Regions from separate parts of the Homo sapiens genome. Here region 2 is linked to region 1. A link means that fine-mapping ties the variant in region 1 to the expression of a gene that starts in the linked region. Tissue or cell type: whole blood. Region 1 holds a variant in brackets; the other region holds the start of a gene. All regions are shown on one strand. Distances are between the middles of the regions.

The links. PIP is the estimated chance that this variant, and not a neighbour inherited with it, causes the effect.
Region 2: PLXNB2 starts here. The variant in region 1 is fine-mapped to the expression of PLXNB2 in whole blood (TOPMed, PIP above 0.99).

Annotation. Positions count from the first base shown.
Region 1 is chr22:50,369,869-50,372,704 of GRCh38, forward strand. PPP6R2 (protein phosphatase 6 regulatory subunit 2) reads left to right here. Exons shown (of 24, transcript NM_001242898.2): 2 at 2,152-2,282. It also overlaps the pseudogene RN7SL500P. Among named protein-coding and RNA genes, the nearest start is that of PPP6R2, 28 kb to the left of the region's middle. The variant G/A (reference allele first, on the strand shown) is at 1,185.
Region 2 is chr22:50,306,384-50,309,020 of GRCh38, forward strand. It overlaps PLXNB2 (plexin B2), which reads right to left and starts at 1,263. Exons shown (of 37, transcript NM_012401.4): 1 at 1,170-1,263. RefSeq lists an enhancer at 1-116 and silencers at 424-574, 1,095-1,164, 1,175-1,374, 1,535-1,584, 2,285-2,334.

The sequences.
Region 1 (2,836 bases):
GGACCACAGGTGTGTGCCACCACACCCAGCTAAGTAATTTTTTTTTTTTTTTTTTTTTTAAGTAGAGGCAAGGTCTCGCTGTGTTGCTCAGGCTGGTCTTAAACTCCAGCACTTAAGTGATCCTCCTGCCTTGGCTTCCCAAAGTGCTGGGATTACAGATGTGAGCCACCACATCCCACCTTTTTGATTTGTATATAAAATGTAAAAATATGCAAAAGTAGAGAAAACATAATTAACATCTATGTACCCATCACCTAACTTCGACAGTGATCGACACTTTTTTTTTATTTTGAAAGATCTGATTTTATTTTCTGAATCAAAAGTAAGTGTATTCATGTTAAATTTAGAATGTTTTAGCTTTCCATTGATCTTTCAAGATGCTTTCCAAATACTAACAGTGCACAGAACTATGTGCCACGTCTTGTTTGTTTGTTTTTGAGATGGAGTCTTGCACTGTCACCAGGGCTGGAGTGCAATGGCGCGATCTCGGCTCACTGCAACCTCTGCCTCCCAGGTTCAAGCAATTCTCCTGCCTCAGCCTCCCGAGGAGATGGGATTACAGGCGCCTGCCACCACGCCCAGCTAATTTTTTGTGTTTTTAGTAGAGATGGGGTTTCACTATGTTGGCCAGACTGGTCTCGAATGCCTGACCTCGTGATCCACCCGCCTTGGCCTCCCAAAGTGCTGGGATTACAGGCGTGAGCCACCACGCCTGGCCACGCTATGTTTTAAAGAAAAAAGTTTAAAAGTAGGACCTATTTCTTTTTTTCTTTTCATTTTTTTGAGACGGAGTCTCACTCTGTTGCCCAGGCTGGAGTGCAGTGGCGTGATCTCGGCTCACTGCAACCTCTGCCTCCCGGGTTCAAGTGATTCTCCTGCCTCAGCCTCCCGAGTAGCTGGGATTACAGGCGCCTGCCATTGTGCCTCGCTAGTTTTTGTATTTTTAGTAGAGACGGGGTTTCACCATGTTGGCCAGGCTAATCTTGAACTCCTGACCTCATGATCCACCCGCCTCGGCCTCCCAAAGTGTTGGGATTATAGGCGTGAGCCACTGCCCCCAGCCACAAATGTAGGACCTATTTCTAAGAAACCCTTTGTAGAGGTCAGGGTATTGGGAATCCTAATTTAAAAATATTTTTAATCATTATTGGAAATTTAAGTGACAGTGGGTTCAAGAGCTAAAC[G/A]TCAGACCTTTTTTAAAACAAATTTTATTTTCTGAAGGACTTCATACCTGACAACGCCAATTAAACATAATACTCCACCCATCCTACAAATTATTAAATACATTATTTCACCTGGGACTAGGATAATTATAAAATGGAATTTTAAAGTTGTAATATAGCCAGGCACAGTGGTTTGTGCTTGTAATTCCTGCTACTCAGCAGGCTGTGGCAGGAGGATCACTTGAGGGCTGTAATGTGCTGTGTGAACTGGGTGTCTGCACTAAGTTCGGCATCAGTATGGTGACCTCCCAGAAAAGGAAGACTGCCAGGTTGCCTAAGGAGGTGTGAACCAGCTGAGGTTGGAAATGGAGCACATCAGAAACTCCCATGCTGGTTAGTAGTGGGACTGGAGCTGTGAATAGCTACTGCTCTCCACCCTGGGCAGCATAGTGAGACCCCATCTCTTTAAAAAAGAAAAAAAAAAGAAAACTATCTTAAAATATCATTTTAACTGTCATGTTTGCTAGTTGAATTATGAAATCAAAGACAAATTTTATATTTAAGGGACAGATAATAAATGCTGTTCCATTGCTTTATTTTTAAAATTTTGTAATTGCTTTTTTTTGAGATGGGGTCAGTCTCTGGTCACCCAGGCTGGAGTGCAGTGGCATGATCTCAGCTCACTGCAACCTCTGCCTCCCAGGCTCCAGTGATCCCGCCTCAGCCTCCCGAGTAGCTGGGACTACAGGCATGCGCCACCACACCCGGCTAATTTTTGTATTTTTTGGTAGAAATGAGGTTTTTCCATGTCACCCAAGCTAGTCTTAAACTCTTGGACTCAAGTGATCTGCCGCCTTGGCCTCCCATTCTGTGGGGATTAAAGGTGTGAGCCACCGCACCCTGCCTCCTTTTCCTGTTGTCTGCCATTTTGATAAGTTAACTTTACCGAGGAAGAACTTAAAGCAAGATTTTTCCTCTTATTTTTCAGGTAAAGAGATTATAAATCTTCCACTGAATGAAAAAAATTTTCTTAAAGCTGCATATACTCCAAGAAAAAAACCACAAATGTTTTTCTGTTTTGCCTGAATACATGATTTAAACAAGAGATTTCCACAGAAGGTAAGATAAGTTTCTTTTTCAATTTGATTCTGTTTTATTGTGTAATTTATGTAAAAGTTCTGTACAGGTGGAAGTTCAAAGATGGGTCACAGCGAAAAACGTAGTTTAGAAGATATGCTGGCTGGGCACTGTGGCTCACACCTGTAATCTCAGCACTTTGGGAGGCCGAGGTGGGTGGATCATGAGATCAGGAGTTCGAGACCAGCCTGACCAACATGATGAAACCCGTCTCTACTGAAAATACAAAAATTAGCTGGGCATAGTGGTGTGTACCTGTAATCCCAGCTACTCAGGAGGCTGAGGCAGGAGAATCGCTTGAATCCAGGAGATGGAGGTTGCAGTGAGCCGAGATCGTGTCACTGTACTCCAGTCTGGGCGACAGAGCAAGACTCTGTTTCAAAACAAAACAAAACAAAACAAAAAAACAGATGTGCTCATGGTCTGTTGTCTTTTGGTGGTTTTTGATCCTCCTGTGTCTGGTTTTGAGATGCTCTGCATGTTTTTGAGCAAGTTGCTTGGTCTTTCCAAGCCCAAGTTTAATTCTTCTTTTTTTT
Region 2 (2,637 bases), 64 kb before region 1:
CCTCCGGGAGACCCTCACCTCTGGACAGGAAAGGGAGGGCTCCTCCCACCAGCTGTTCAGCTGTTCCGTGCCAGGGTCATCTGGGCATGGGGCAGGCTGAGAGCCCCCACTTCCCGGCAGCCTCGCTCTCCCACCCGCAAAGGGCTCCTGAGGAAGCTCAACTTTAAAGCCTCACAGGCTGCGCCGAACCTCCAAGCAAGGGCCGAAGTCAGACATTAAGTGGGGAGGGCGGGGGGGTCCAGGGAAGGTGGGGCACAGGGAGCCCTCCAGGCCGCCGGGATCTGCCGGGTTTGGGGCCCACCCTCACCCTCACCCTCACCCTCACCCTCACCCTCACCCTCACCCTCACCCCCTGTCCTGACTCTGCCACAGCCCACAGTGGGCAGACGGACCCCTTTCTTCCTTTCCCAGGGAGCTTCGGGAAGAGAAATCAAGGGCCTGGCAGGAAGCCCCAGGGCGTCCGGGCTCTGAGACCCCCAGATGACAGGGGGAGGCGGGCTCCCCAGATCTGCCGAATAGCCCGACCAGGGGCGCTGGCAGGGCAGGGGCTTCCTGCAGGAGCAGGGTGCGGAGGGGCAGGGTCAGCAGGGGACAGGCAGGGCTCGCGCCCCCGCTTCTGAGACTTTCTGTGTCTCGGGGTGTCCACCCAGACGCCACTCTGGGAACCGCGAGGAGGCCCAGGCAGTGGGGTCTCGCCAGGTGCGGGTGCTCTCCGCCCTGGTCCCCCCGCGCCAAGCAGGCCCCAGGGGGTGCGGGGACGGCCCCCGGGAGCTCGGGCAAATCCAGGCTCCTGTGCCGCTGAGCCTGGGGCCGGCCCGGAGCGCCCGCACCGCGAGACCATCTCCGCTCGGCGCACGGAGCTCGGCGGCTGAAGAGTGAGAGGCAGGCGCGGAGGAGGGATCCGACGCGGCTCCGGAGGGACGCGCAGCCCCCGCCGCCGGGCCCGTCCCCCGAGTCAACACCGGGAAGGGAGTGGGGCGGCAGCGGCCCGGGCCTCGCCGGATGGACCGACGGACGGGGCCCAGGCCCCGGGAGCCCTCCGCGGAGCCGCAGCCGCCGCAGGTCCCCGGGCCCCAGCGCGGCAGGCCCGGGCGGAGCGGCGCTGACGGCGAAGCCCCCCCCACGCCCAGCGAGACGTCCCCCGCAGCCCAGTCCCCCGAGCTCGGTACCTGCACGTCCGCCGCCAAGGCTCGATGGCGCCCGGGCCGCGCTCGGCGCTGCGCTCTGGCCCGCGCTGCTGCCATGGAGACGGGGCCTTTGTGTGGCCGAGGAGGGGCCGGAGCGCGCGGGAGCTGCCGGCCCCGCCCCCGACGAGGGAGAGGAGGGGAGGGCGGGGAGAACAGGAGAAGGGGGGAGAGGGAGAGGGAAAGCGGAGGGGGAGAAGGAGGGGGAGGGGGAGGGGGGAGAGGGGGAGGGGGGAGAGGGGGAGGGGGAAGAGGGGGAGGGGGAGAGGGGGAGGGGGAAGAGGGGGAGGGGGAGGGGAGGGGGAGCAGGAGCGGGGAGGAGAGGGCAGAAGAGAACCGGAGAGGAGGGGAGGGGACGGGAGGGGAGGGGCTGGGCCTGCGCTCCCCGCGCCCCCCACTTCTCCCCTGCCCAGCGGCCACAGCATTGTCTGGTAGGTTCAGGCACCCCAGTTCAGACCCAGGTTCAGCCAGGGCAGCACCCTGCCCACCATGCCGCCGTCCAGGAAGCACGAGCGCCCACAGAGGCCCCATGGCCTGAGCACCCCCACAGGAACCCCGCAGGTCTGAGGGGAGGCCATGGCTTGGTACCAGGGGAGGGCATTATGAGTGCACTCTCGCCTGGCCAGAGGAACGTGAGGGTCCCTGCCAGTCTTGAGATGTGTGGGCACCAGACTCTCACTCCCAGACTGGAAGCATACCAGTCGCTCCCCTGCGGCCTTCAGGGGTGGGGGCTGCTGGGCTTTGGCCCTTTCCCAGGGGTCTCAGGCCCTCAACCTCCCAGGGTAAACTGGGACCTGGAGATGGCCTCCCAGCACATCCCTGGCCTCCAGCAGCACCTTGGGATGCTGCACCCGGGACCCCACCTGGTCCTTCAGGGCCAGGAGGTGGGCGGGCCGAGACCTCTTTCTGGGGGTTCTGGTTTCTGGGACAGAGCTGGCCCCACTTCTGGCATCCCAGGTCCCAAGTCCTGGCCTCAGTGCTCCTAGTGTCCCCTGGGCTTGAGAAGAGGTGGTGAACCGTCTGCAGGGCCAGACCTTGGAGCACGCCTCCACTGCCCTCCCGGAACTGGATGTGCTGAGCAGGAGACAGAAGCATTCCCCAAGCTCTTGCCCCCACCCTGGGTCACCCCTCCCTGGGGCCCGCCTTCCACCCAGACCTGCCCCGTCCTTGCAGCTGGTCAGCTTCCTCCTGTCCCCAGCCAGGCATCCCCTCCTCCTCTGCTTCCCCCACCCGGGATCCGCCCCGCCACATCCTGACAAACTCCCCCAGCCTGACTTAGTTCTTTCAGTCTCTGCCTTCTCCCACCCTCAAGCAGCCAGGCCTTGTTCCTGTCCAAAATCTTCCCTTGGGCCTTGAACCACAATCCACATCACGGCAACCCTACCCTTCACTGCAGAGGACCCCAAAATTACCAGGTTCTGACAAGGTTGCCAACTTTTTATCAAAAAAGGAA